Regions from separate parts of the Homo sapiens genome. Here all the other regions are reported to be linked to region 2. Evidence: microRNA targets listed by miRTarBase, many of them from high-throughput screens and not tested one by one. Region 2 holds a microRNA gene; each other region holds the end of a gene's coding sequence.
What was found. Region 2 holds the annotated microRNA hsa-miR-3679-3p (CUUCCCCCCAGUAAUCUUCAUC, at 3,123-3,144, shown strand). A microRNA usually pairs through its seed, bases 2 to 8, with sites in the 3' UTR of a target mRNA and lowers its output. Matches are read on the target gene's strand: a 7mer-m8 pairs with bases 2 to 8, a 7mer-A1 pairs with bases 2 to 7 and ends in A, and an 8mer does both.

Region 1 (5,069 bases), not on the chromosome of region 2:
TAAAAATGGAATTCAAAATTGTGTCCTACTGTGTTCTCATCTAATGTGTTATTACTGTTGTAAATCAAATTACTGTGTGACCGTGGGCAATTTACTTAACCTCTCAGTGCCTCAATTTTCCACATAAAATGAGAATTGTAGCACTGGTATTACAGGAGATGCATGAGAAGCACAGAAGAATAGTGTCTGGCCAAATCAATAGTGACAGAAAGCAGATTAGTGGTTGCCAGAGGCTGGGATGAAGGGGGAATGGAACTGACTGCTGACAGACCTGGGGTTTCTTGGTGAAGTTACAAAATGATCTAAAATTAGATGTTAGTGATAGTTGTGCAATTTTGTGTGTGAATATACTAAAAACCACTGAATTGTACATCTTAAAAGGTGAATTTCAGCCAGGCATGGTGGCTCACGCCTGCAATCCCACTGTTTTGGGAGGCCAAAGCAGGTGGATCGCTTGAGCCCAGGAATTCAAGACCAGCCTAGGCAACATGGCGAAACCCTATCTCTACAAAAACTACAAAAATTAGCCAATTAGGTGTAGTGACGCATGCCTGTAGTCCCAACTACTCGGGACACTGAAGTGGGAGGATTGCTTGAGCCCAGGGAGGTCGAGGCTACAGTGTGCCATGACTGCTCCACTGCACTCCAGCCTGGGTGAGTCCCTGTCTCATAAAAATAAAAAATAAAAAGGTGAAGTTTATGGTAAAGTGTATTTCAATAAAGCTGTTATTTTAAAAATTCTTAAAAAAATAGAATAGTGCCTGGCACACAGTAAGTGCCAAATAAAGGTTAGCTATTATTATTAGTAATATCATTGTCATTATTATTATTTGGCCATTCTGTGGCCTAAGTAAACCCCAAGAAATTCTCTATTTTTAACAAAAGCCTACAGAATCTAGAAAAGTGTTTCTAATTTATATACATGAATTAACATTTATACATTTATTTCCATCCAAATGTCTCAGAAACAGTCTAAGAATCACAATTTCAGTGTTTTGCACTGAGCTAAAACAGCTGCATGCAATGGATGTCTTATCAAATCATGATAAGCTTTAGATAAATTCTAATGACTTGATGTTACCCAAGAACTTGAACTGACAGATTTTCATTTTTGTCTCCAGGAATGAACAGGCAGTCCAAATACTGTTAGTAGTTACATTATATAAAGCACACAATTAAATGTCCAAATACAGGCTTGGTAGCCTTCTAATCACATTTTGGGAGATACTGTTTATAAAAAGACAAATATAGTAAACAGTAAAATGCTTACTAGTCCCATGTCCTGTGACCCCACCTTGCCCAACAACAGGAAAACCCCACCAAAATGAAAATATGAAAATCAACTCATGTAATAAACCTCTTCAGAGGCAAAAGACTTTAGAGGCAAAAGACTTAATGATTAACGGTTGACTTTTAAGACTTTACTGCACATTCAGATATGTTGGAATCAATTGAGTTTTTATACTCTGAACAGCAATTAAATCCAGTCTTTACCCGTCCTATTGCTAAAGAATATGACAAAAGAGTCTTGGTCTCAGAAGTAGGAGCAGCAAGTGATTACTCATGATGGCAATGATGCACCACATTCTGCAGTGATGCTCACATGCCTGAATTTCATCTGAAGCATGAAAGTTCCCAAATCCTGCAACAGGGTTTCCTTTGTTGGAGTCCCCGTCCTTGCCGTCTTCACTTCTATAATCAGCTATGTGCCTTTGCAGCAAATCAGGAAAAGCTGTGTTGAGGGTTACAACTTCCAGACATTTAGGTCTTAACTTCCATCACAGAAAGCAATGCACTTTTTTGAATATATTAAGAAAATATTTATTCATCCCTTCAAGCCACTCACTTTCAGAAAGACAATTGAACATCCATTTTATCAACCTTCATTTAACCCTTTTCCTGTTTAGAAAAAAAAAAATTGCCAGCGCTAATTTACATAAACATTCTCTTTGAGGCTTAAGCAAATCTAACTGATTTTCAATGTGAAAAAAGATAAAAACTGAGTTATTTCTAAAGAGAACATCAGAATTGTCTATTTCAAAAAAATTGGATTCATCAAATGAATCTTCGGCCAACAACTGTTCGAGAATGATGTTAACATCATGTATAGGCATGCTACGTTTTCTAGGATTTGACATTTTCAGTAATCAAGAGTTACTATATTTTGTAAATGGAAATACCGCTACTAAAAAAAAAAAAGAATGCTATAAATAGAACAATGTCTTTTGTTTCCAAAGTCCATATACTAGAATGATGTGAAAATAATAAAAGCGAAATATTTCGTAGGCAAAGTTATCTTGGGGTAAATGCTACAACTGCAAGCGCCACTGGCGAGTATTCTCGGGGCAAACAGAAAGAAGGTTAAATCAAATAAAATCATTCCCTAAGTCACCCAAGAGCAAAGATAAATACATAGAACAAGCTGCCTTAAGTCCCAATATTTATAACCCACCCACCATGTACATCTACACGAACCCCCCAAAGCTGTGGCCTTAGGAATTTCTGACCAAACAATTAGCCTGAGTAAAATTCAATAAACACTTTTAATTCCCCCTTGAGAAGCATGGTTACTTCTTTAATTTTACATTATAGTCATTGAGACAGATTACGAAACAACTTTGGCAGAAAGAGAGTTTTAGCAGGAAGTAAGAGAATTTCAGACATTGGAAATGGATAATAATTTAGAACCAATTTCAAAATGAGGATCAGTTCCAAAGTATTTTCTTTACTCATTCAAGATTGAAACATTGGCTCTGTCCACACAAAGGTTTATTTTACAATTTAAAAGGTAAATTGTAATAAATAGAAATATATAACCAAAAACTCTGGACAAGGCTGGAACCAAGGGGACCCACTTTGTAATGCTTTGTTATTATCATTCCAAGAACCCATTTGGCCCTGTATTCACTTGGCTAATGTGGGGATGGAGAAAGTATGACTTTGGAATCATATATCTATGTGTAGGTAGTCTTTAAATACAAAATGAATAAATATTTAAATTATATGATAAAGAAAAACTGGGGAATAAGAAAGTCCTATGTTTATCAACTAATAGTATATTTACAATGAGTGTTTTCTGCCTGACACCTAATCTTTGTCTATTAGAGTTCCTCAATGTGCAATTTATAGAAGGCAACAGTTCATATTGCCTTAAAGGAGCCCTGTTTAGCTCAGAATCAGCCTGTCCCAGATGCTCTGCTCCCTGAAAAACCTTCACACTTGTGTGCATAAATATCTGAGATTACAAGTAGGTGCACATGTGCAACATGTACTTATCTAAAGGGGAGCTAATTAGCTTGATAAAGTCTAAAATCAATAAAATAAATTGCTATTCCCCAACCCAAAAAAACACATCTAATGAGAAAACTGCTAAGCTCACCATGAAAAGGCAGCAGCTGTAAACTCATCCCATCCCACGTCATGCTCTAAGTATCTAGCTGTTCTATTAATCAGCCATCAGAACACTAAATCCCTCCCTGTTCACATGGTTAAATACAGGCTTCTGATTTAGCTTTACTTTCTAGTTAAGAGGCCAGACTACAGAGAATATTAAACAGCTCCTTTTAACTATGCTGCATCCAGACTGCCTCATTCCACCCTAAGAGAAGGTGCCCACATGATAATATGCACTAGAGATCTACCAATCTAAGTTTCTGAGGTCTTCTTTTTGGATAAGTTCCAGCACTGGAATATTCAGAATTTCAAAGGAAAATTACATGTTGACTACTGACATTTTAGACTGCATATTCAAAGTTAAGGAGCAAGATTAAGACTAGAGTGCCAACCAAGATGCTGTTAAACATGGCAAAAAGGTGACAGCACAAAGGGACCAAAGAGGCTGATTCTTTAGAGGCCCTTTGCTTTTTTTTTTTTTTTTTTTGCAACAAGTGTAGAATTTCCCCTGATCAAAATCTGAATATTGGTTAATGCATGTTTTCTCATTCTCCGTGTATGAACCCACTCCTAACCTCTCTCATTGCCTTTTTAAGCTTAAGAGAGAGAAATAAAAGAAAATGGATATAGACCATGTATTTTTATTTATGAAAAGAGAGGCATATTCTAATAGTCATAAGGCAATGTGTTTAAGAGCTGCACCTGAACTGGTATTCTCAAAACTGAAAATAGTTATCAACTCTATTCAACTTGTAAGATGTATCTATGTGCTTCCCAAGTCACTGGTTGTCACCCAAATGGACCACGGTGACTCCATCATGCCTTAAGGAGGCATTATATACTGTGTGTAGTATGCACATGTATTTTTAAAGAAATGACATTAAGAGAGAAAAGAACAGCCTTTCAAACATCAGTTCCTCAAATAAGGGGTGACAGTGCTATATGGCTCCCTTTTAATCTCCTCACCTACTCAGTTATCAAATACCTCCAAAATTAGACAAATAAGGGCCAGAGACAAAGCTCCATGGTGAATTGCATCTTTCAGATGTGCTTTCAATTCACTGGTTTTTAATTTCCCATTCCTGATTTACTGAGGAGTAAAGGTGAGAATCATCCAACTGATGACAAAGTAAAACAGGAAAACAGGATAAACAGCTAGGGCTCTGCGGTTTGGAGGCTGGCTATCAGCAAGGAAAGCTGTGGAGGCTAAACAAAACAAGACAAAACAAAAAGGAATGTTTAATACAGTAATATTGTCACAACTATTAACATTTACTAAACATTCATGAGCTTGGCATCATCTAGAACACAGAATTACACTAAAAGTTTAGTTATACTGGTGATCCTCAGAGATAAAGGCATTCTGCAACATAGTTTTTCAGAGAGCCGAGGCCGAGGACTTATTTCAAGTACTAAACCATTTTGGATGGAAATCTTTCTAAAAGGAGTTTTTTACCCTTTTCTGGAAAAGTTATTGAACTGTACTGAAAAGGCTTACAAAGATGTGTAAGGTTATTTGTTCCTATGGTAAACGGCCTCGTGCTGCTCTGCTTTTTGAGCTAACTGTGCTTCTGAAATTGTCAGCTCTTTTAAACGCCATCCCTCCCTTGTCCATCTAAGAAAAACCTAATCATCGTTTTACTCATCAAGAATCACCCTTCTGACCAGGCACAGTG
Region 2 (5,074 bases):
TTGTGACTGATGCTGGCTGCTGATGAGCATTTTTCCAGCATCTGCCATGTGCTGTGCACTGGGCTGGTGCTGGGTATAAAGATGTCCTCCTAAATTATCTCACTTTTAATTTAGCAGACCTTCTCTTACTGTGTGTTAATACAAACTAATAGCTCTTGGAAAGCTGCCAAGGTGGGTCCCAGGAGCCTTAGCACTGTAACCACGTTCTCAGCTAGAGGAGTTTGGACTCGAGCTGTGTGTTTGCCCATTTGGACTGTTGTATTTATTTTTTTCATTGCCACAATTAAGTGCATCCTTCCCTGACTTTGTCATATCTGCAGGGCTATGTGTGTGCATGGGAGGGGTTGGAGGAATCACTTTATTTGTTCAAAATCCCACAGTTCTCTTGTCTAAACATACAATCTTCTGGAATGGGAACAGGGCTTTCCTCTCGGGACTCTGCCCAGTCTTAAAAATCAGGACAGGCAAGGGTTATAAGCTACTGTGGCTTGGTTTGGTGGGAGCAGTTTGTCTTGTAAACTAGCACTCTCTCTTTGTCACCTTCACTGCCAGGCTGGCATTAATGCCTGCTGGACCTTGACCCTTGCTCAGGTGGCTCCCTGCAATGGCTAAGGAATATTTCTCCACTCTATTTCCTGACAAAGTGAACTCAGGAGTGAGTTACACCCAAGTACTTCTGTTACTAGTAAGAGTTAACTACTGGTGCTTGCAATAGGTTTACTTTTTAAAATGTCAGCACTTCAAGGTTATCCCTAGAATAATAACAGCCTCACTTATTTGCATCCCTTTGTGATTTTTGTGGCTGGCCCTTGAGGGAACATGTGCCACCCACCCACTCCTGTTTGAACTTCACGCTTTAAAGTTGTAGTTCGGTGCACAGACTTCTTATAAGTCCTGTCATGCTGGTAAAATGTTTTTTAAAAATTATTATTATAAATATCCTACACAGAAAAGTCTTCCACTCTATTAGTTTTGGGTCTTTTCCATGTCTGGGTCCCCTCATGGGAGTGTGTTATGTTGGTGATCATCGTAGAGATTTTATTATATGTCTTGGTGGAGAAACATCAAGAAAGGGTAGACAAGAAAATAGGAATGATGGCGATGAAAAAAATCCACCTTCTCCGATTGGCATTATTGCAAATGCTTCTTTTGTACTACAGGTATTTCACTCAACAATGAGGTAGATTCTGTTGTTATTCCAAGTTTATACATGGAGAGACCATAACATCATGAGGTCAGGAAATCTAGCTAAGGTTACAAACAGCTACTCAGTGGCAGAGCAAGGATTTGAAGCCAGGTGGTCTAGATCCAGAGCCAGTGTGGGTTGGGCTGTGAGTAGTGGTTAAGGCTGGTGAGTATGCCCTGTACTAGCCAGCACCTTCTTTCCAACCTAAGCCGAGAGGGCTTCATAGATACCCAGGGGCACTGCAGGGAGGGCCCTCCTCTTTCTAGCTGAGGTCACCGAGGTGCAGAGAGGTGGAGGGACTTTCTCAAAGTCTCACCAGCAGGCAGCAGTGGCAAAGCTGGACCTCACATCTCCTCTGTGGTCCCACAGGAACAATTGGTAACAGTTGATAACGGGTGCCTGCCTGCTTTGTTTATAGCAATGATACAGGAAGAGAATTGATGGCCACTGGGCATCTGTTCCTCACTGGAGCCCACTGTGTGCTCACACCCAGCTTCACCTTGGAATGTGGTAGGGAGCAGGTTGGTGTGGCCCAGTTCCCTCCTACCATCCCCAGCTGGGAGAATCTAAGTGACGTATATCCTTTGGAATGAGGGGTTCCCTTTCTCATGTCACCTTTTAAGTTTGACATGATAAGAATCCAGTCTGGGCTGGATTTTACATTTCACTCTTATTAATTCTCTGTGTTTTAGGGCTCCTGGCTCCTCTCAGCATTGATTTCCTTTCTTTAGGAGCATGGGGTAGGTGAGGAGTGACCTGGAAGAGGTATCAGGACCATTCCTTAACATTTCTGATAATCGGTGCCTGTGAAGACATTCCCGCAGTGTCTGCGGAGTCCTAGAAAGAGAGCAGAGGCCACACAAAATGCTTTTCTGAACCCAAGATCGCCATACTTTGTGGAATCTTCCCATTGGACATAGCAGTGAGCACCCGTTTCCTTTCCTGCCCTCACCTGTTCCTGATTCGGAATGCTTCTGCCAAATAAATAGTCACTGGCTACCCAAGGAGTTTAAAGTCTAAGCCTGGTCAATGCACACCCAGAAGAGTTAAGTTCAGTGATAAAGGGAAATGTAGATGAACATACTAATTCAGCCCATGTGACCACTTTGGGCCTCAGCTGTTAGGTTGAGAAGTAAGAGGGGATTGAATGCGCTCCAAAGATCCGTTCAGTTCCTAATGTTGCTTAATTCTATACATGTGGCAAAAGGCTTGTAACATAAATTAAATGAAATTCCCTTATTAAATTAAAAAGAAGGTTGAGAACACATTCAGGTTGTTTTTGCCCTGGCCAGTAGACTCTCTTTAGCAGGCAGCCGAAAAGCTTAACTAAGAAGAATCAGCCCTTTATTGTTACTCTCTTTGGGGATGTTTATCTTTGTATGTTTAGAAATAAAAAACCTTGGTCCTTACTTTCAGCCCTGAAATAACCTGCTTTCCTTTAGTGAAGCTATTTTTTCCCTTGGGAAATTGAGATTCAAAGAGTAGAGAAGATGACCAGGCTCATAGCCTTCTGTGGTTCCTCGCACAGTGCCCTGGGGACGTGGCTAGGTGTTTACACACTGCCACAAGCAGGGCCAAATTCTGTCTACACATTCAGTGTGTAACTACTACCTTTCAACATAAGGAAGTTTGGTATCAGTCTTCTTGCAGCTGCTTTTTTTTTTTTTAAACCATCTTATTTTCACCTCCAGTTTGTTATTTACAAGCATCCATGCCGGTGAGGAGTTTTCTGAATGACCGATTCTTTCTTGGATGCAAAGAGAAAGTACCATCTCTGCCTCATGCTCTGTGTGATTTCTCTGTTTTCCTTTGGCACCTTTCTTAGTATTTGTTTGGTATACTTCCTTCGTCCCCTTTCCTGTAATTTTTTAGAGCACCTAGTTAGAGGCCCCACGTGGTGAGGATATGGCAGGGAAGGGGAGTTTCCCTCTATTCCCTTCCCCCCAGTAATCTTCATCATGCGGTGTCCCCAGTCCTGTGTAAGACCTTTGCAAACACAGCTTCAAGCCCCTCTGTTCATCTTGATTGCCTTCCCTCTGTAAAAAAGTTCTAGTCTCTGTGACTAAGAATGTTAACATTCTTCCTTTATTTGATTTTTAGCTATTATGCTTGGTGGGTTTAAAGATGACATTGTTATTGGGCAGTCTTCACTGTACATTACACACAAATGTAATTCTCCTGGGTAAATACGATCAACTTTTAGAGGTTCACCATTCCTCCTTTGCAATTCTTATGTCCAGTGAGCTCCTTCAAGGAAAAGGTTTCCCCCCCCCCCAGGCTTGTTCCAACCCCCCCAAAACAAAAAAAGAAACATGTAGGTCCAATAAAGAAAGGAGTGTCATGGAGCTCTCATGGGTACAGGCTGGAAGCTCCAGGCCTGGCGTGCTGGAGTCACGAGATGAGCTGTCCAGGCAGCATGGCATCGTGAGTGAACTCCGACCGTGGCAGGTGAGGCTTCTGCACTTAGCTGGCTGTCTTCATGTGGGCCGATTCTGTGGTTAGTGATTCTGATTTCTCATCTGAAAAGTGGTGCATCACTTAGCCCCTCCCACACTTGGAGGGTTCTACTAGTGTGCCTGCGTGGCTGGGTTCTGCACACTCAGCTACTTTAGTTTCTTTAGTCTATCCTTAAAAAGATTCCTAGGTGTGTTCCTGATTTTGAGGTTCCGTTTGGTCATTATGCTCTTTCAGAGTTCATCTTTTAAAATCAGTCTGTGGACATTTTTTTTTTCCTCTTAGCACAGTTTATGGTCTCATGCAGGTCAACAAATTGGGACTCTGAATGTGAGTGTGTGTGTCCACACACCACTAGGGCTTATTACCTTATTGTCAATGTTATCTTAAGAAAAAGTGGAGGCTGGGTGCAGTGGCTCATGCCTGTAATCCCAGCACTCTCAGAGGCTGAGATGGAAGGATTGCTTGAGCCCAGGAGTTTGAGACCAGCCTGAGCAACAAAGCAAGACTCCTGCCTCTACAAAGAAAAAAAAAAAAGAGAGAAAGAGAAGGAGAGAATGAAAGAAAAGAAAAAGAAAAGAAAGAGAGAGAGAGAAAGAAGAAAGAGGGAGTGATCAGAGAGCTGCAGGTTTGGAGTAGCCATCAGTTAAAGGAAGTCTGCAGAAAGTTTCTGTGAAAGGATTTTGTTACTATGGCCTTTCCCCTAGTACCAGCTTGTTAAGTAGTATAGGTAGGGGATCCTTGGTAATACTGTGTATTAAGATTTTATTGTTCTTCCTGTAAAGTGTTTTTCATGATAATGAGTTGCTTATTCTATGATAGTGCCTTTTCTCTATTTCTGTAAGCAGAATCAAATACAACTTTCAAGTTTTATTAGTTCTTTTTTTTTTAGAGACAGGGTCTTTCTCTGTCACCCAGGCTAGAGTGCAGTGGTGCAATCATAGCTCACTGTAACCTCCAACTCCTGGGCTGAAGTGATTCTCTTGCCTCAGCTTCTTGAGTAGCTAGGGCTACAGGCATGTGTCACCACGCCTGGCTAAATTTTTAAAAAAAATTTTAGTTTTTGGAGAGACACGAGTCTTACTATGTTGCTCAAGCTGGTCTCGAAGTCCTGGCCTCAAGCGATCCTACTGCCTTAGTCTCTCAAAATGCCTTAGTCTCTCTTAGTGCTCACAGTTGTGAGCCACCGTGTCTGGACAGCTTTCCATTTTTTGATGCCATGTCTGGTTAATACTCTTTAAGTTTCCGAGTTTCTTCCTCCTAGTTCAGTGGTTTCAAGTGTGACTGTTCTATTTCCTCACTGTCAGTCTCTAATAGAAATACTACAAGATTACTTCTATTGCTGCTGTAACAGCCACAAACTTAGCAGCTAAAGCCACACACATTTATTCTCTTTGAATTCTGTAGGTCAGAGGTCCCTTATGGGTCTCACTG
Region 3 (5,074 bases), not on the chromosome of region 2:
ATTGAATGATCATATGCTTGAACCCACTCCTTTTCAGTCCCCATTTCACCTTCACAGCCTCAGGGAACTTGAAAAGACTGCGCGGTCACAAATCGGGATACACAAACACAAACACCTTGCTGAGCTCTCTGGCCTCCCCTTCCTCTCTCCTCCTCCCCTCCCCAACACCCTCTTTATCTTTGTACCCTTCCCCAGCTGTGGAAAACATTCGGTTACCAGAATGGAAAAGATTCTTGGGGCAGCATCTGGAGCCTGAGGCCTCAGACTGCCTCTCATACCTGCCTGAAATGGGCTCACAGATGTGATGTGTGGTAGGGGTGGGGATCTGTGGGGCGATGCAAGTGGCCTCTTGAGAGCTCCATTATAGGTGGCTGGAGCTAGAATAAGGGCTTCCTTCCTCAAAGACAGCTTTCCAAATTGAGGCATTAATGGGGATCAATGGAAATGAAATTGCCTTGTGATCACCCATCTCCAAGAGCAGGGGAGAGAGGGGGTAGTGTGAGAATGTAGAATTGAAAATGAGTAGAACTCACTCACTACCTTGTCTCTAAAGGTATCTTGCCCTCTTCATCTTTTCCCTATTTAAAAGTCAAAAATGCCTTCCTGCTTGTAAGAAAGGGGCTTTAGCAGCTATGCAGACCAAATTTTCTATGGTTCTAATAGTAGTGAGGGGAATGGGAGAGCAAGACAGTTTGCACATCTCCACCTGAAGATGTTACAAATTTGTACCACTAACTAGACACCTTTTTCCTCCTCATGATCCTCCCATTCCCCTGCAGACGGGCAGCGGGCAACGTAGCCAGACCAGCTCCATCCCGCAGAAGCCCCAGACCAACAAGTCTGCCTACAACAGCTACAGCTGGGGGGCCAACTGAGGCCCTGACCCTCTTCTCCCGGTCCCATCTTCTGAGAGGGCTTCTCAGCCTGGAAACTATGGAAACAGCATCAAAGAGAAAGGAATGTGGGGGGTTTCCGCTGCCCCCCACCCCCAGCGGCCCACCCCATGCCTCAGCTTCATGTCTGTCCCATTCCTATACCATCCCCACCCTGTTGTATGTATTATAGGATTTGTATTTTCTCCTTTTTTTTCCCCCTTCCATTCCTTCTCCCCTCTTGCATTCAAGATTATGAAACTTTGCTATGGGCCCTGCACTTCCTTTGCTTCCTCCTGTTCACCCTGGTGGTGTACGGATGAGGCGGGGAGGTGGGACCCCCAAACATATATCAGCCCAACAGCCCTAAGTCTCCTTCTTTATTATTAGGAAAACAACAACAACAACAAACAAAAAAATGGCGTCATGAATATGAACAGCATTGTCAGATGAATTAGTTGAAGTGGTTTTTTTTTTGTTTTTTTTTTTTTTTTGTACTGTGTCCTCAAATTTAATGGATTAATGTGTCTTGTATATATAAAAAGAAAACCTCTACCTTCAGCCTCTGCCTATTCTTGCTCCGTCTAGGACATCCTCAATTTCGTCGATGACCAGCTTGGTGAATAAGTATTACTGTACCAACTGGGCCTCCTCTAGCAGGCCCCTGAAGGCAGTGGAATAAAATGAAATCTTCGCCCTTTAAGAACTCCTGACCTTAATGTGGTAGTAGTATCTTGTCCTTGAGGGGATTTCCTTCCCCTCACCCCTAAGACTTTCACAACCTGGTGACTGGAAAGAACCACCACAAATCTTCATTTCCTCCAGAAACTGCTACATCTACAGCCGATTTCAGGCAGTAAAGGGAGAGGGATAGAGGAGATTGGGTGGAAAATGGAGAGGATCAAGAAGGAGCTGAGACCATTTCAAAGAAAAAAAATGCTTTATAGAGTTTTAAGTATGACTTAGATGGGTCCAGGCAAATAAACTAAAAAGAAGTGAAGGCAACATGTATCGTCTGGCAGAACTAAATCTTGGAGTGGGGTGAGGGATGAAAGACTACATATTGGGTACAGTGTACACTGCTCGGGTGATGGGTGCGCTAAAGTCGCAGAAATCACTAAAGAACTCATCCATGTAACCAAACACCACCTGTACCCCAAAAACGAAATAAAAAAACAAAACCTTGGGGCCCATTCCCCCTAGGAATGGACTACTGTAGTAGTGGCTTCTTGGATGCTTCTCTGTGACATAGCTATACCCAATTCTTTGAAAAAGAATCTAGAGCAAGGTCTGGCTTGGGGATGGGGTACAGGGAGAGACAGGTCTCGGAGAGGTTTTGAACAAAACACTTTTAAAAAGGAATGAGGACAGGCGCTTTGGGAGGCTGGGTTGGGCGGATCACCTTAGGTCAGGAGTTCGAGACCAGCCTGGTCAACATGGTGAAACCCCGTTTCTACAAAAAATACAAAAGTAGCCGGGCGTGGAGGCGCATGACTGTAATCCCAGCTACTCGGGAGGCTGAGACAGGAGAGAACCTGGGAGGCGAAGGTTGCAGTGAGCCGACATGGTGCCACTGCACTCCAGCCTGGGAAACATGAGAGAAAACTCTGTCTCAAAAAAAAAAAAAAAAAAAAAAAAAAAAAGATACCAAAGGGATATTTCTTTATAACCCCCAATTTGTTCCTTCTCAGGACTCAACTAGCTTCCCTTCCCTTGCTTTCTTAAAAATCCTTTGTCTTGCTGGTTGCAGAGCCTGCTTAGAAAAAAGAATTCTATATAGTTATAACAAACTCCCTAGTAGCTAGAGAGGTGGAGGAAGTTAAGTCCATGCGTCTCTTATGTCTTGATCTCTTCTCTGGGAAATTCAATACTAGAAGGAGCTTGGAAAAGCATTTTGTTCATCCCTCTAACAGCAGACATCGCCCAGGTCAGTCAAAAAGAACGCCCGAGTAAGGAGCGAGGTGGCTTCTGCTGTGAGGCTGGCCAGCCCCGCGGGTGGGGTGGTTGAGGGACGCCCTCAAGCCGGTCCATTTGTGCGGCTGGGCTGCCCTCTGGCGGCTTTATCCGGGTGCCATCCAGAGTCAAACCCTCGAAATCGCTTTTCGTACTGAGTTGGTCTGCAGAAAGAAGAACAGATTTAGGAGGAAGGCGGTCATAGGAAACTGAAAGTGCGTCACGCCCACTCCCGTCACGGAAACTGGTCTCTGAAAGGTGGGGTAAAGATAAAGCCTTTCAAATTTGAGGAAGACCTTCGGTCCCGCCTCCATTTCACGTCCGGCTTACCGTCGTTTACGACAGTGTCAGGATCGCGGGCTTGCTTTCCGGTAGCGTGGGCTGACGCCTCGCTCAATTTCTCACAGGGCTGCGCAGGTTTCCCCCGTCTGCGAATGGACCACTGGAGGGGTTCAAAGGTTCGCGTCCCAGTACGGGAATGAGCCTCTTTGATCTCTTCCGGGGCTTTTTCGGCTTTCCTGGACCTCGGAGGTGAGAGTAGGTCCGGCTCGGACAAGGGTGGGGGTCGTCTGAGGGGAGCTTGACCCCTACGTCTTATTTTTGGAAAAACATCCTCTGTCCCACTCCTTCAACTCCTGCAGAGAGGACAGAAGTCGCAACATTGAACACTCACCCCGCCACAGTAACCAAGGCGGTCATTAAGAGGAGAAACAGCAAACTAAGCCTTTCTCCAACCTGGGGTGATGCAACAGGGACCCGGGCGGGGAAGACCGTGAGGGTCTGGGGAATAAGACAGTGAGCAAGTGAGCAGGACCTTGGGAGAGAGAGGAGGGACTGGGGCACACTGAAGAAAAACTGGGGGAAGGTGTATGAAGGGAGCTGCGAGCTGAGGTCTGACTTTGATTAAAAAAAAAAAAAAAAAAAAAGAACTGTCAGCCATTGTATTAATGTTTTGATGTGGCAGCCAGTCCTCCGACCCTCTCCCTAGCTTCCCAGACCCCTTGCTCTTGTCCCACTTTGCCACCCATGAGTTGATTTAATGGCTTAAATAGTGCTGAAATATTGGTGGCCAATCTGCCTCCACTCTCAGCCACAGAGATCCCTTTTTTGGAGGGATGACTCGAGATGAAGATGATGATGAGGAAGAAGAAGAAGAAGGGGGCTCATGGGGCCGTGGGAACCCAAGGTTCCATAGTCCTCAGCACCCCCCTGAGGAATTTGGCTTCGGCTTCAGCTTCAGCCCAGGAGGAGGGATACGTTTCCACGATAACTTCGGCTTTGATGACCTAGTACGAGATTTCAATAGCATCTTCAGCGATATGGGGGCCTGGACCTTGCCTTCCCATCCTCCTGGTGTGTGGCTTTCCCTAAGGGGCAACCTGTGGTTTCTGGTGGGTTGGTGGGTGAAATAAAGAGCCTGCAGGGAGTAGCTGGGGGATGGGAAGTGTGAGAAGACTGATGATTTCAGAGAGATTAATAGAGCCCAAGTCCTTTCCCATCCCAGCAAACACCTGCCACCTTTCTGCAGAACTTCCAGGTCCTGAGTCAGAGACACCTGGTGAGAGACTACGGGAGGGACAGACACTTCGGGACTCAATGCTTAAGTATCCAGATAGTCACCAGCCCAGGATCTTTGGGGGGGTCTTGGAGAGTGATGCAAGAAGTGAATCCCCCCAACCAGCACCAGACTGGGGCTCCCAGAGGCCATTTCATAGGGTGAGTATCCCATCTGGTCCTGAAGTGAGAGCTTGTGAGAGACCACTAATAAAGTGCAAAGACTGGCTAGGTGCGGTGGCTCACGCCTGTAATCCCAGCACTTTGGGAGGCCGAGGTGGGCAGATCACCAGAGGTCAGGAGTTGGAGACCAGCCTGGTCAACATGGTGAAACCCCGTGTCTACTAAAAATACAAAAAATTAGCCGGGCATGGTGGCAGGTGCCTGTAATGCCAGCTACTCAGGAGGCTGAGGCAGGAGAATTGGTTGAACCCAGGAGGTGGAGACTCCATCTCAAAAATTGTTTGAGACCCAGCCTTGCTCTGTTGCCCAGGCTGTAGTGCCGTGGCACAATCTCAGCTCACTGCAACCTCCAATTCCCAGGTTCAAGTGATTCTCCTGCCTCAGCCTCCTGAGTAGCTGGGATTACAGTCGCCTGCCAAACGCCCAGCTAATTTTTGTGTTTTTAGTAGAGATGGCGTTTCACCGTGTTGGCCAGGCTGCTTTTGAGCTCCTGACCTCAGGTGATCCACCCA
Region 4 (5,074 bases), not on the chromosome of region 2:
TTCCACCCCACAGCCCACCCTGCTTCAATGGTATTTCTGGTAACCCACCCATTTTCCCCTTACAGGAAGTTAACGGCTCAGAATAGACCCTCCTACAGAATTTATCATCACTAACAGATTGTTTAGAATAGAGATCTAGAGAAGCTAACAAGCAAGGTTCCCTATAATGGCAGTAGACTTCCAGCAGACACCACAACAAAGCACCATCAATTGCTGAAAGCTAAAAAATAGATATTATTTTCAATAATATTTCATTTTCTATTGGAAAAGTTTTTTAAATTACATTAAATAAGTCTCTTTCCCCCCAAAGAAATAGTCTAGCTTTTATTATGATGCCTGTAAAAAGTAGGTAACAGCAAGCAGACAAGGATCGTTAACAGCACAGTGTAATGATTTCTATCCACTCACACCTATAATCAAACTGACAAACTGTGCCACACCTGATTATATATAGCAGCATGGTTGAAATAACCAAGCAAAAGGTGACACATTCAAGACTTCCATTTAGGTGATTGCAAGTTCATGAGGGTGTATCAGTCCAATGAAGCAGTAACAGAACAAATGGGACAAGGGAGATACTAACACTCCCCTACCCCTATGCCACAAGATCTTTGATCTATATTGCAGCAGTGCAAATAGAACGTGTGACATAATATGTAGACACTGAAGAAAAGTCACACTTGGGAATAAAGGCTATTTTATCAGTAAATACTTCAAGTTGCCTTCTTCCCAGTGACAGCAACTGGCTGATGGTAAGCATTTACTTTAAACTGATACTAAAAAGAATGGAAACGTAATTTTTAAATCAATGGTTTGTACCCTGGAATTGAAATTCCTTGAACTAGAAAAAGTGATTAATACAACATTTTGTAGAAGTCCATGAAATAAAGTTAACTGTAAACAGACGGCTTCCTTTTTCCTATCTAAACATTGTTTCCCTCTACATACTAGAAGGTATACCTGGCTCCAGCTGTTCCCTACCCCAATCCATCTTAAATCTTTAAAACAATAACAACAAAAATTCATAATTTCCTATTTTGCTACATAGGATTGTAAAACATTACCATACACCTACTGCACAGTTTTAAAAGCTCAAATCAGGCATACACTTATACCCAAGATCTGCTTTTCACATTGGTAAACTTATTAAGCAGCCTCAACAGTAATACAGTATGCTGCATTCTGTAGTGCATAAATAAGCAAAATCCGTTTAAACTGCCAATTCTTTCTTACAGATACTTAAAAAGAATTATTTTGCATAGTTTTATGTGCCAACAATCATAAATGTGTATTACTTCTAAAAAATGAAAAAAAAAATCAAGTCTTCCATTTCATAGATTATTCTCTTCAAAAGCAAAATACTTAGACTCCATTTATATATCCTTGAATGTGTTACGTGTTTAAGTAAATCATAGTCGTGATTCCAAACATTTCGGGGTGCCAACTCAGAGCACCTAATTCAGTACCTAGTTCCTCAAATATTTATATACCACTGAATACTTATTTGGGTCCACTAACTGCCATTCATTCATTCATTCATTCATCAGTACTGAAATACTATACAGCTAATTATTTCTTCTTTTAAAAGAGGCACATACTCAGGAAACAGGCCTGATTATAACAAAAGCCTACTGGAGCATCAGTGACTTCTAACAAATCGGCCTGCCCTAAATGGGATTTCACTGGATTTTTTTTTTAACATAATTTTTGAGGCTTTTAAAACTGACAAACGGAGCCAACTCAAAAATATTAAGAATTACAAAAATAATTTCCACCAGGGTACTTTTCCCCTAGGCCTGACCTTTTAGTGTCTTTTTGTCCAAACATATTTAAGACCAGAGGAAAAAAGCAATTGCTTTAGTTTCTATGTTTGGGTAACTAAATCTACCCACAGACAAGAGAATAACAAAAACCAAACAGTACAGTGGGAAATATACCAGAAAGGAAAAAAAAGATCATCACATTAAATGTAAATGAGGTAAATTTTTATAATAAAGAATCTTTTATGAAGAATGTCTCAAACCAAATATTGTACTTTCCAATTTCTTGGGCACTGGGGATGCTGAAGTGTAGTTAGATGAGTATATAACCCTATAGGGCTCATGTGCATAAAAATCAAAGCAGGATATAGCTGCCTCCAAGAGCATGTATGTATGTATATATGTAAAATGCTTGACCTTTAGAAACCTCTGAGCTCTCTCACCTTTGTTTAACCACAGGACAATTAAATATACCCTGATAATACAGGCAAAAAATAAACTGGGTAGATGTGTCTGATATTTTTAAACCCAAATTCTACTAATACTACCAAGTTGCCCTCCACTTAAAAAAAGTAGTTCTAACCAACACTGGAGAAAAACCATCCACATTTTCACACAATCCCACCTTACTTCAAAATATAAAGTACGAGGTTTCAGGTATTTAAAATAAATAAAGAAAAATCTTGTTTCCTTTGGCATCTTTAGAAAATAAACTACAGCAATAAAAAGAGGTGATTGTATAAAGACATGCGTAAGCAAACATATGGGGAAAAAACAGCAACTTGTGTTTAGTATGTAATAATATCAGCTATAAGAGTTTACTGTTAATTAGGAAAGCCTTACAAATTTTTGGAAGAACCTTCACATCTTTAACATTACAATATATTTAATAATGGTTCTTTTATTGCTTCTAGTATCAAGATTATTGAGAAGTCAAATGAAGTTATGCTGACGTTATGATTCAAAAATTATCTTCCAAACATTTAACGATTATAATTTAAGATAAATAACACTTAAAGAAAGCAAACCTTTTATAATATGACTTTCAATATACAGCCTTACTTTAATTCAGTCTGATTCCATTACATTTTTGTTATTTTGTATTGGTCCTAAAAATTTAAAAAGAATTGTATTTCTATATATAGAACTGCCTGCATAAATCCACTTCAACCTTCATAAAATGGTTACATTAGTGTGTGATCTTGCAAAACTAATAATTTTCAAACTTTTGAACTTAGAATGAAATGTAAATTTAATACAAATAGTCTGACTATGTACAAGAGAAGGTAAAGTTTTCAATTCTCGTATTATCAGAAACATCATAAAGAAAGCTAGATTTATAACACACTTCTATTCCTATGTGCATCTGAAGTATGTACAATAAAACACCAACACAGCTTTCATGTGTCAATAGGGGAAGTGCAAGCAAGAATGACTTGAAGTATCCAATAAAGCAATCTCTATAGACCCCAAAATCAGGCTAAAAACTGCAAACAGCTGACTGCATCCTTGCCAGTTCTCAAAGAAAAATTTCATCACTAAAAAATAGGTGTCAAATTCACTGAAAAACTAAGTTGGGTTCTTTCATTAAACCTGGGAATAATGTAACATCAAGTATTTACTATTTTTGCAAGAGAAATAAAATTGGCAGTTCCATTTTTACATTACTTAAGAAAAATTTAAGAGTGTTTGAAGAACTGGGACAAGACATTCCAAACCTACGACCTAAAAATGAAGCAAGGGATACATACTGTCCTTCAGCACATTTCCCCACCTGATACAGAGAAATTTACCATTAGAATATTAGCTGTGTGTGGCAAGGCGGGGGTGGGGGGGGTGAAGGGGGAATCAGACACTGTCCCAGTCTGTTGACAAGGACAAAAAGGCTCTGAATAGGTCACCATCTTCAATTCTGAATAAATTTCATATTTAAGAATTCTCAAATGCTTAAAATGGTGGTCTTTTCAGCTACCCATCCTAAGAAGTCAAGTACAAGCATGCAAGTAAATTCACAGGCACAGAGGATCCATGTTAAAAACAGTTAAGGTAGCTGTGATGCAACACCAACAATTTGAATGGCCCTGACACACTCAAAATATTATCTTAATTATTCAACAAAATCCTGAAGCAAACTCTTGCTAGTCTTGGTACACTGCTAAACACTAAAGTAGCATGTTTCTTCCATGGTTTTAGCTTAGCTCAGGGAATTTTTACACTATTAAGAAAAAAAATTAAAGTATTTCCCCTTTTTAAATTTACACAGACGTTTAATTAGCTTTATTTACAGAGCAGGGATTTTTTTTTTTCAGTCTCCAATGGTGCCTAGATAACATCATTAGGCAAGAATGCCAGTTTAAAAGAAATCTATGCAGAATCCTAAAAATAACAGATGTTGGTGCTCCTCAAGAAGAGGCAAGCTTGACTATATCAGCAGCTCTCTATGCCTCAGTTACTCAGAAGCAATTCTGTTGCAGTCTCTACATCCCATGATTTTGAAGACAAGGCCACTATTACTGCATTCTGTAGAGAAGAAAAGGGGACAGGAAATTAAATCTCAAGGAAACATTTAAACAATACTGAATCATTCACTCTTTATACTGGGAATTAACACCTTGTTTCTTTTCTGTAAGTTGATTTACATTTGCAGTGCATGGAAAGCTTCTAAAATCAATGACAGTAATTAGTAAAAATAAAAAAATCACTGACTTTGAAAACAGAAAATATGTTTACCAAAACTAGATTTTCTCTTATTTTCCTTTTTTTTTTTTTTTTTTTTTTTTTTGAGACAGGGTCTTGCTCTATCACCAAGGCTGGAGTGCAGTGGCATGACTATCGCTCACTGCAGCCTCGACCTCCTGGGCCCAAGGGATTCTCTCACCTCAGCCTTCAGAGTAGCTGGAATTACAGGCACTCACTACCATGTCCAGCTAATTTTTGTAGAGATGGGTTTCGCCATGTTGCCCAGGCTGCGAATTTCTCTTATTTTCTAAACCACTTTTGTCAGCCAAGAATTTGCAATAATTTAAAATCAATCAATATATCAAAATCAACATGCCCTTATGTACTTACCCTATCAAAGCCCATAGCACATAGGTTTTCTATTTTTTTGGTGTATTCTGGACTAGAAACTGGTGCTCCAGCATACACATGTGCCCAAAGTCGAGCTGTCTGTTTGAACATTTCGGGATTTTGTTTGTACTATATGGGGGGAAAAATTGATTGACATGACATTACAGTTATAATATTTGATATATTTCAGCTCTTAATCGCCTACAATCCTACTTTTCCAAATAAAACAAATCTACATTTAAAAT
Region 5 (5,069 bases), not on the chromosome of region 2:
GAGATTGGCCTGATAGCTGTTGGAGGAAAGTTTAATGTATTTTCTTCCAAAGCAGAGGTCACAGCCCAAAGACCTACAGAAACATGGAATGTAGTGGCAAATTAGGAGTAAGATGGATGTTAGGCAAAGCAGAGGTGGAGACGGTGGTGAGCTAGAGAGGGCCAGGGACTCTCTGACACAGTAATGACTCTGCTCCAATTGGACATGGAAATTTGGATCTAACATAAGCCAGTTCTTCCCATCTTCCTAGAAAACCCAGTGGTTGATTTGCATTAGAATCTCCTGGTGTTCAGATGTTGGCAATCAAGGTTAACTATATGCCTGTAGAATTTCCACAGCCTGCTCCCACTCACCTTTAAAAGCCTTCCTTGGCAGACCATACTTACCTAAAGTAACCGCATTCCTGTTGGCCTTCTTCTTCATCATTCATCAATCTCTCACTGTATTCGGTAGCTGTGTATAAATGCACGTGTTTCATCATTTGTTTGCTCCCTCCAAATGTAAGCTCCATGCCTGGAGTACTTTTTTTCACTGCCATTGAATGAAACATTATTTAAAATGGCGTAGGCCAAAGGCTATCTGAGCACTGTCTGTGACTACTACTCTCATGCATTTTGCTCACTGCTCATGATCTTAGAGGACTTACACAACCATTCTGAACATGTCAGAGTCCTTGGTATTGTTATAAATTTTTATATGTGTTAATTTCCCAACTAAAAGACACACATCTTAGGAGCCACAGCTGTATTCTCTCCATCTCCCTTATGCTTTACTCACAGAGAACATTAAATATCTGATTTTTTCAGGAAGATCAGCTAGTGAAACAAACAGGAGTTGAGCTGTGTATGACATAAAGAAAAGCACTGGAAAAAACATTCAAACTGTTTGAAACAAATGATTTCTGGTACTTTGGCACCCTCGTTACTGCTCCTTAAAGATAGCAACATGATTTGGGACAGGAGGCCTTGATGGCTGGTATAATACGGAAGTCACCAAAAGCCTTGTGCATTTAGGCTGAAAAAAGCTTTTGTGACTTATGTCAAATAAACATGATAAGGCAAACACAGCCCTCTGCAAACAACTGCTAACATCACAAAGGGATTCTACTGCTTGAGGCAGTGTTTTAATGCAATAGGTTAGTGTCATTTAAAAAAATTCTCTATTATAGGTGCCCAAGGACTTCAGTTTTATCCTACATGAACACACATTGATCCAAAAACCAATTGAACACAATCAGTGTAGGTGTTTTTAACTTCTCTGTCCAACACACTACTGTAAGTTCTAAAATGTGGGATTATGTGTGAAGTGACATATATTATCATTCCATGGGAATTTCTGACATCACGGCTAAAGGTAAAGTTTGATGGAATTGTCACTTAGAATGAGGTAGGTTATCCTCCTTTTCCTTTCCTAGCCATTACGATTAGCTCTCACAGATGCAGAACGTACGGGAGGCAGAGCTACTGCAACCTGTGGCTGACTCTGGAGGTGTGGGTGGAGGGGGTTGAATCTGTTTCCCCTGGACTGGAGCTCTGCCCTGCTCCACACTCCTGGCTCACAGCAGATGTGGGACACTCAACTCCCGACAATGGATGTTTTCTAATAACCTTTCCAGTCCCAAGGTGTCACATGGTCCCTTTTCTGGCCCAGGACAGGATTATAATAAAACTGATGCAAACACCATCCTTGAAATTAATACCAGATAGCCCTTTAAATGGGACAGCCAGAAAATGAAGCCTAAGAAACTTCAGTTACTAAACTTCCTCCATGAGGCCCAAGGCAGACTAACCAGCTGAGACTAACATGGATTGGAATGTTTATAAGTAAGATTTTTAGTTATTCTCATGAACCTTACTGTGGGCCGGTCAGTTAGCAAGTCCTATATAATGCTTGTTAAAGATCTCAAACTAAGATTTTCAGGGCTCACAGGGATTAAGTGGAATGGAAGAATGGAGAGAAGCCATTTCTCCCGGCTGAGTCCATCATGCTCAGGAGACTTTTACCCTCTTCACTTCCTGACCCATCAATGATGTTCCCTTCTTGGCTTTAGCTCTAACCTGTCTCCAGAGCATCTGATCCATTACTTCCAAGTGTTTATTTAATGGGGCCTCCCCTATGGGCAACTTTAAGACAACAAGTCTAAAATGAACATTTTCTCCTGCCCACTCAAAGCTATGCTTTCTAGCATTACATTCCTAAGATATTTAGTTTTTATTGGTTCAGTAACCATTTGAGTGCTTACCTGTGTTGCAGCAGATATAGGAAAGAATGATGAAACTCAAATTTAACTGGGTAGCAAAATTAAAATTTAAAAAAATGAGATGCAGCCCTGTCTAGTGGGGAGAAGAGCATGTGAAGACATAAGTACACTCTTCAAGTGCCACACGGACATGAAGGAGGGGACACCTTGCCCCATCCTGAAGTCAGGGACGACATCAGAGGACAGGAACGCCTCTGTGTGTATTCTTTTCCTTAGCTCTTCAACTGAAAAGGATCCTTGAGGCAAAATCTTTTTCTTAATATGCTTATTTCCCACCATAATCAGGGCACTCAGTGCACAGCAACTAGCAAACACTTGATAATGCTTGGGCCAAGGCATCACTGACCCAGGTGCCCAAGCAACAGGGCAAAATTGAAGGCAGCCCACCCACCAGGCACCACGCAGAGCTCTCTACCCACAGGCTGAGCTCTCTCTCTGTGCAGCTTTGCTCTGAGGAAGTCTAAATGTAGTAAAGAATATCCTTTTTTTTAATCCTTAGGAAGACTTTCTCCACTGAGATAAATGTAAAGATAAATTCTACCAACCTTTTTCAGACTGTTAAATGTGGAGAGTCCTGCTTCATCATCATCATCATCACAAACGCACAGCACTCATCATTTGCCCAATGATATTCTAAGTACTTAATATATAGTTCATGCACGTAATGCTCACACCAACCGTATGTGGTGGGCACTATCATTATCCCCATTTTATAGATAAGGAAAGAAGGCATGAGAGGTGAGGTGACTTGCCCAAGGCCAGAGAGCTAATTTTGTGTTACCAGGATCCAGAGTATACTCTTAGCCACTCCGCTCATCCTTCTGATTTGGGGTGGTAGTCATATCACATCTGTCTTTTGCACTCTGGGATATAGAAGTACTAAGATGAGGCATTTGCAAAAACAAAAACACAGTGCTCACCAAACTAACATTTATTTAGCTTTGTTCCCTCCCATCCAAGACTGCTGATCTCTAAACAAGCATCAAAACCCGAAGCTCATTAACATCAGAGTGAGCTTCAATAAGGTGAACACTACAATGATGTACAATTACATCCTAATAATTCAATGCCCAAGAGCCCTGTAGAACTATTGCAAGGCCCAGGATTATCACAGTATGCAAATGCACTAGGAAAATCATTACCTATTTAGTCCCCTTTATTTTGGTGGGTTTAACATGAGAAGAATAATCCATGCTACAAGACGAGATTTCATTTTACAGCTGTAGTAACCAAGTGCATAAAAGCTTGAATCTGTCCCAATAGCTTCTAAAAAATTTTTCCCATAGTGTCAGAGGCAAAAATAATGAAATCTTGCAAATGTACAGTTAATAGGACCCTAGTGGACACTAACTTCAAAAATGCATGGTCTATAAGATATTATAAGGCTTGATTCTAGTTTCTGCACTGTTCCTGTTAATAACAATGTCTAATTAAAACATCTGTAAAATACTGATAGTTTTAATTTTACATAAAATTTCCAAAACAACTGTTACACAGTATAATAGGTATCTGCAATGAATAGGTTATTAATGGAAATATTAATTTAAATTAAAATCTGGTTCTAAATTTAAATTAGTCATCTCTGGCTAATGAAGAGAAAAAGAAGTCACCCGTGCTGGGAATACAGTAGAAAATTTAGTTTTCAACATCTGTTAAAGCAAATTCACTGTACCACTTGGGCTAAAGAACAATTCACTTTGTTGCTTTCTGTCTTCTCCATTTGGCACATCTGATGGATTTCACAGTTGAACTCAATATTAGAACTACAGCCTAATGCACCTTTTAATACATTACTTTATAATTTAAAAACCACCATTCAACTTTCTTCACAGTCTGAAATCCCCCCTCCCTGTTTTCCAGTGAAGAGACAGCAGAGAACACTCTTCCCTGTAGTAGCTTTTCCCCCACAGCCCCACCTAACCTGATGAATATTTTAAAAGGAATGGCACAAAATCTCAGCTTTCCCTTTCTTTGGGTCTCATCTTCAGTTACAAAATAAAAGAGATTAGCAAGGCTTACTGGCTAGCCGCAATTCAATACCTTTCTTTCTAATTAATGCACAACAAAAGAGGGTTAAAAAGCGATCAGCACTGACTGGTGTCTACCGATGCTGGCACTGAGTTGGTAAGGGATTCATTCCAGACAATAAGAAGCTGCATTTCAAGTTGCTTCAGATGCACACACTGCTTCACAATAGGTGCTGCAGAATGTGGTCCACAGCATGAGGGAAACTCTCACAAGTTAAGTAAGGAGGTGGATTAATTTTTTCTTCATCTGATGCTCGATATTTCCCTGAAATGAAAGTAAAGCCAGTAAACACAGGCTGCCACCAGAATGCTAAATTAATCATACCCCATGAGCACCTGGGTCATCACAGCACCACCCTTACAGTTAAGACAGAATCAGGGGCTGCACATCTCCCAAATCACCTTTTATTGAGGCTTCAGGATGTAAATGAGGCAATTCAAAGAAATGTCACATTCAGCCTTTCCCCAGGCCCTCTGGTCATTCACAATGGACAGCCACAGGTACTGGATCGTCTGACAGCTAAGATTCCCTTCACATGTTCACAGCTGATGAAATCATTTTCTTTCCCCTACCCTCAGCTCTAAAGATAGATTGGTGATTAAATTAATGCTTTAAAATGGAAGCCCAGACCCCAGAGGGCAGAGGACTCATCCGCTCCCAAAGGCAACTGGGAACAGGATGTGCTGCTGCCACGCAGGGATCCAGGCAGCCCGGGAGCCCAGCAGATGAGAACGCCCTGGGTTGGGGAGGAAAAGAGTGATGGATGCTCGCAGGCCAGGGG
Region 6 (5,074 bases), not on the chromosome of region 2:
TTCAGGCAGAATTCACACCTAAATCGTCATCAAAGTACCCACAGTAGAGACAAACATTTTAAATGTGAGGAATGCGGGGAAACCTGTCATATTTCCAACCTTTTTAGACATCAGAGACTACATAAAGGGGAAAGACCCTATAAGTGTGAAGAATGCGAGAAGAGCTTCAAACAGCGCTCTGACCTCTTTAAACACCACAGAATCCACACTGGGGAGAAGCCCTATGGATGTTCCGTCTGTGGGAAACGCTTCAATCAGAGTGCAACCCTCATTAAACACCAGAGAATTCACACTGGGGAAAAGCCTTACAAATGTCTTGAATGTGGGGAAAGATTTAGACAAAGTACACACCTTATCCGACACCAAAGAATTCATCAAAATAAAGTGCTGTCGGCTGGGCGTGGTGGCTCACGCCTATAATCCCAGCACTTTGGGAGGCCAAGGCAGGCAGATCATTTGAGATCAGGAGTTTGAAACCAGCCTGGCCAACATGGTAAAATCCTGTCTCTACTAAAAATACAAAAATGAGCCGGGCATGGTGGTGCATGCCTGTAAGCCCAGCTATTCGGGAGGCTGAGGTAGGAGAATCACTTGAACCCAGGAGGCGGAAGTTGCAGTGAGCTGAGATCATGCCACTGCACTCCAGCCTGGGCAACAGAGCGAGACTCCATCTCAAAAAAGAAATAAAGTGCTGTCATTTTGATATGTTTCTATGTGACTTGGCCTGTTTCTTTTCTTGTCCAGAACCACATTCCTTGCCATTTGGAGTATATCAGTCAATTATGGATCTTCCTTGAGTATCTCCTACAAGATAGGTTCAATCTGTCCTGAGCCTCATTACAGACTGATAGTTTCAGTGAGTGAGGAATGAGGAAGTAGGGGGCCTTCTGAAATGTGAGCTGATGCCAGGTAAGAGACTTCTGATGATAAGAGCCAGGCTGACATGTAACGGGGTTCTGTCCTTGTTATCTGCGCTCTACCTTTATGTATTATTTTTGAGACTGGGTCTCGTCGTAGCCCTCCAGCGGGAGCCCAGTGGTGTGATCGTGGTTCACTGTGGCCTCAACCTCCTGGGCTCAAGTGATCCTCTTGCCTTAACCTCCTGAGTAGCTGGGACCACAGGCACACACCACCACACCCAGCTTTTTTTTTTTTTTAAGAGATAGGGTCTTGCTATGTTGCCCAGGCTGGTCTCAACCTCCTGGGCTCAAGGAATCCTCCTGCCTCAGCTTCCCAAAGTGCTGGAATTACAGACACAAGCCACCACACCCAGCCTACCTTTATTTACTTTTTTTTTTTTTTTTTTTTTGAGATGGAGTCTCGCTCTGTCACCCAGGCTGGAGTGTAGTGGCATGATCTTGGCTCACTGCAACCTCCACCTCCTGGATTCAAGCAATTCTCCTGCCTCAGCCTTCCAAGTACTTGGGACTACAGGTGCACCATGCCATGCCCAGCTAATTTTTTGTATTTTAGTAGAGATGGGGTTTCACTGTGTTGCCTAGGCTGGTGGTGAACTCCTAAGCTCAGGCAGTCCGCCCACCTCAGCCTCCCAAAGTGCTGGGATTACACACGAGCCACCATGCCCGGCCTTTTTATTCACTTTTGAACCAAATCTTGCTCACTACAATTATTAATACTTGCCTAAGAATGTATTTTAGTCATTTAAAATTTGCCTTTGGCCTTAGATTGTAGAGAGGGTTTCAACTACTTCATAATCCCCAAAAGATCTGGTAAAGCTCAGTACTCAAAAGAAGCACTCTATTTTTCACTTTCCAGAAAACCTAATTTTGCATAGTCCCTCTTTCTTTCCCATTCTAGGAGCCTAGGAGTTCAGTTTTATGACTTGCTGATTTCTTTTTTTTTTTTTTTTTTTCTTGAGACGGAGTCTCGCTCTGTCGCCCAGGCTGGAGTGCAGTGGCGCAATCTCGGCTCACTACAAACTCCACCTCCCGGGTTCATGCCATTCTTCTGCCTCAGCCTCCTGAGTAGCTGGGACTACATGCACCCCCACCATGCCTTGCTAATTTTTTGTATTTTTAGTAGAGATGGGGTTTCACTGTGTTAGCCAGGATGGTCTGGATCTCCTGACCTCATGATCCGCCCGCCTTGGCCTCCCAAAGTGCTGGGATTACAGGCTGGAGCCACTGTGCCTGGCTTTTTTTTTTTTTTTTTTTTTTGAGACAGATTCTCTGTCGCCCAGGCTGGAGTGCAGTGGCATGATATCGGCTCACTGCAACCTCCGCCTCCCAGGTTCAAGCAATTCCCCTGCTTCAGCCTCCCGAGTAGCTGAGACCACAGGCACTCGCCACCACACCCGGCTGATTTTTTGTAGTGTAGTAGAGACAGGGTTTCACCATGTTGGCCAAGATGGTGTCTATCTCCTGACCTCGTGGTCCGCCCGCCTCAGCTTCCAAGTTTCTAATCATGCCTTGGTCTTTCCAGTTAGCCCCCAAGCTGAACCCATCGGAAATCCAAGAGTTGCCTTATTAGAACAAAGACATGCATCACTAAGGAAATTCCAATGGGTTTAACAGCTCTGTGTCAGGAACAAGTGTCAAAGACCAAATATGATAAGAAAAGATGCTCTTAGCACCCTTATCCCTCAGGAATTCTCCAAGGTTTGGGGAGCTCTCTGCTAGTCATTGAGGATGAAGACCAGATACATATTTATCATGATATCACAAGGCTTATTATACAAAATTTGAGTATTTCTTGCAGAAGTGAATAAAATAGAACATAAGAATCATCTCCAGTAAAGCAAGTGTGGTTGTCCTTTCCAGGTCCTGTGAAAATGAAGGGAAGAGAGTGTCTGCTCAGCTCCACTAGGGGCTCCCACCATCACGGTCAGGAGACCACTCTCTCCCTGATGTAGGTGAGCTGGGGCACGTGTAATAGAGGCCTCTGCTTGAAGGAATATCATCAGGAAACAGCAGTCAGGGCACTAGTGGCCCCTGACAAACACAGGGCAGAGCCCCGGGTCTAGTCTGGGTGTAGGTGGCTTCTGGGTGATAGTGGCTTCTCTTCCTCTAGGAACTGTTTGGAAACTGAAGAGTGTCTGGCCTGGACAGCACCTACACCTCCCTCTAAGTTTGAAGCCATCTCAGGATGGCTGCGCTTTGGATGTGACTGTTCATTTTCTATGGCTGAGTCTCTCTAGATTTGGCAGTTCCCTGTGGCTCAGTGAATTAGAAACAGTTCTCTCCTGTTTGTACCTTCTTTAAACATGAGGATTAATCTGAGTGACAAGTGCCTGAATGTCTGAACTGGTCATTGGAGAGAATCGTAAATACAAACTATCTTTTTTTTTAAAAAAAAAAAAAAAAAGGTCTCACTTTGTCGCCCAGTCTGGAGTGCAGTGGTGTGATCTTGGCTCACTTGCAGCCTCAACTTCCTGGGCTTAAGCGATCCTTCCACCTCAGCCTCCCAAGCAGCTGGGACTACAGGCATACAACCACCACACCCAGCTAATTTTTGTACTTTAAAAGTATGAGAGAGGCTGGGCACAGTGGTTCACGCCTGTAAGCCCAGCACTGGGAGGCCAAGGCTGGCAGATCACGAGGTCAGGCATTCAAGACCAGCCTGGCCAACATGGCGAACGAAACCCCATCTCTACTGAAAATACAAAAATTAGCTGGGCATGCTGACAGGCACCTGTAGTCCCAGCTACTCAGGAGGCTGATGCAGGAGAATCGCTTGAACCCAGGAGGCGGAGGTTGCAGTGAGCTGAGATCTCACCGCTGCACTCCAGCCTGGAAAACAGAGCGAGACTCGCCATCTCAAAAAAAAAAAAAAAAAAAAAAAAGATGAGGTTTTGCCATGTTGGCCAGGCTGGTCTCAAACTCCTGGGTTGAAGTGATCCACCTGCCTCAGCATCCCAAAGTGTTGGGGATTACAGGCATGACGCAGTGCACCTGGCCTGAGAGCAATATTTGTTTGTTTTTTTTGACACGGGGTCTCACTCTGTCGCCCAGGCTGGAGTGCAGTGGTGCAATCTTGGCTCCCTGCAACCTCCACCTCCCGGGTTCAAGCAATTCTCCTGTCTCAGCCTCCTGAGTAGCTGGAATTATAGGTGCCCACCACCACGCCCGGCAAATTAGAGCAATTTTTAATACAGACATAGGATGATGTTTAGGATATCCAAATAATTTAAATGGATCTCTTATATTGTTGAGCTCTAGGGAGAATACACTCAGCTCAACCTATTTAAACTGAATGTCAGAATGTGCTTAGAATAATTGTGGAAACAGAAGGGATATGGCTTCTCAGAGAACATAATTGACACTTTTTGAATACAAGTAGTTTATTTGTTGGGGAGAGGTTGCAACACTATTAGGGAAGGTGGAAGAGACAGAAGGGAAGTCACCCAATGAGGTATCTACCTTGGGTGAGTGCCTGTGTGCAATTCATGGGGAACCTCTGGAAACTAAAACACATGCTTCAGAGTTTTCCACACATGGGGAGATGGAGAATTTGGTGTTTATCAAATTCCCATCGATGATTGGTTGACAGCTGCTCCCAGAATGTGTTATTACCCCACAGGCCACAAGGTGCAGACACAGTCAGATGAAGCCCACAGAAGGTGTAAGGCCAGAGGGACTTCGGCAGGGCCCACGGCACCTATTACAAATATTGACTTACAACTCTTTTTTTTTTTTTTTCTTTTTTGAGATGGAGTCTTACTCTGTCACCGAGGCTGGAGTGCAGTGGCATGATCTCAGCTCACTGCAACCTCTACCTCCCAGGTTCAAGCGATTCTCCTGCCTCAGCCTCCTGGGTAGCTGGGACTACAGGCGCGCACCACCATGCTCGGCTAATTTTTGTATTTTTTAGTAGAGATGGGGTTTCACCATATTGGCCAGGCTGGTCTCAAACTCCTGACCTCGTGATCCACTCGCCTCAGCCTCCCAAAGTGCTGGGATTACAGGCGTGAGCCACTGCGCCGGGCTGACTTACAACTCTTATCAGAATCTAACATACTCATTTTAGATTATGGGCAACTTTTTTTTTTTTTTTTTTTTGAGATGGAGTCTTGGTCTGTCGCCCAGGCTGGAGTGCAGTGGCGCAATCTCAGCTC

Region 1: miRTarBase lists YIPF6 as a target of hsa-miR-3679-3p. Seed matches in the 3' UTR shown: 7mer-A1 at 3,896-3,902 and 7mer-m8 at 2,548-2,554.
Region 3: miRTarBase lists UBAP2L as a target of hsa-miR-3679-3p. The part of its 3' UTR that is shown has no 7-base or 8-base seed match.
Region 4: miRTarBase lists UBE2K as a target of hsa-miR-3679-3p. Seed matches in the 3' UTR shown: 7mer-A1 at 4,000-4,006, 7mer-A1 at 3,526-3,532, 7mer-A1 at 1,785-1,791, 8mer at 298-305 and 7mer-A1 at 53-59.
Region 5: the mRNA of HDHD2 is a reported target of hsa-miR-3679-3p. Seed matches in the 3' UTR shown: 8mer at 4,159-4,166.
Region 6: the mRNA of ZNF394 is a reported target of hsa-miR-3679-3p. The part of its 3' UTR that is shown has no 7-base or 8-base seed match.

The regions. Positions count from the first base shown.
Region 1 is chrX:68,531,411-68,536,479 of GRCh38, reverse strand. YIPF6 (Yip1 domain family member 6) reads right to left here. Exons shown (of 7, transcript NM_173834.4): 7 at 1-4,599. The coding sequence ends at 4,481. Among named protein-coding and RNA genes, the nearest start is that of YIPF6, 35 kb to the right of the region's middle.
Region 2 is chr2:134,124,046-134,129,119 of GRCh38, forward strand. It overlaps MIR3679 (microRNA 3679), which reads left to right and starts at 3,080; the gene lies at 3,080-3,147. It also overlaps a transcript of MGAT5 not described here.
Region 3 is chr1:154,269,421-154,274,494 of GRCh38, forward strand. UBAP2L (ubiquitin associated protein 2 like) reads left to right here. Exons shown (of 27, transcript NM_014847.4): 27 at 780-1,427. The coding sequence ends at 875. It overlaps HAX1 (HCLS1 associated protein X-1), which reads left to right and starts at 3,209. Exons shown (of 7, transcript NM_006118.4): 1 at 3,209-3,356; 2 at 3,916-4,178; 3 at 4,354-4,541. The coding sequence starts at 3,304. RefSeq lists a silencer at 2,825-2,965 and an enhancer at 3,103-3,272.
Region 4 is chr4:39,777,566-39,782,639 of GRCh38, reverse strand. It overlaps UBE2K (ubiquitin conjugating enzyme E2 K), which reads right to left. Exons shown (of 7, transcript NM_005339.5): 6 at 4,830-4,958; 7 at 1-4,280. The coding sequence ends at 4,206. Among named protein-coding and RNA genes, the nearest start is that of UBE2K, 82 kb to the right of the region's middle.
Region 5 is chr18:47,104,234-47,109,302 of GRCh38, forward strand. It overlaps HDHD2 (haloacid dehalogenase like hydrolase domain containing 2), which reads right to left. Exons shown (of 7, transcript NM_032124.5): 7 at 3,177-4,552. The coding sequence ends at 4,449. Among named protein-coding and RNA genes, the nearest start is that of HDHD2, 44 kb to the right of the region's middle.
Region 6 is chr7:99,488,875-99,493,948 of GRCh38, reverse strand. ZNF394 (zinc finger protein 394) reads left to right here. Exons shown (of 3, transcript NM_032164.4): 3 at 1-709. The coding sequence ends at 420. Among named protein-coding and RNA genes, the nearest start is that of ZNF394, 8.9 kb to the left of the region's middle.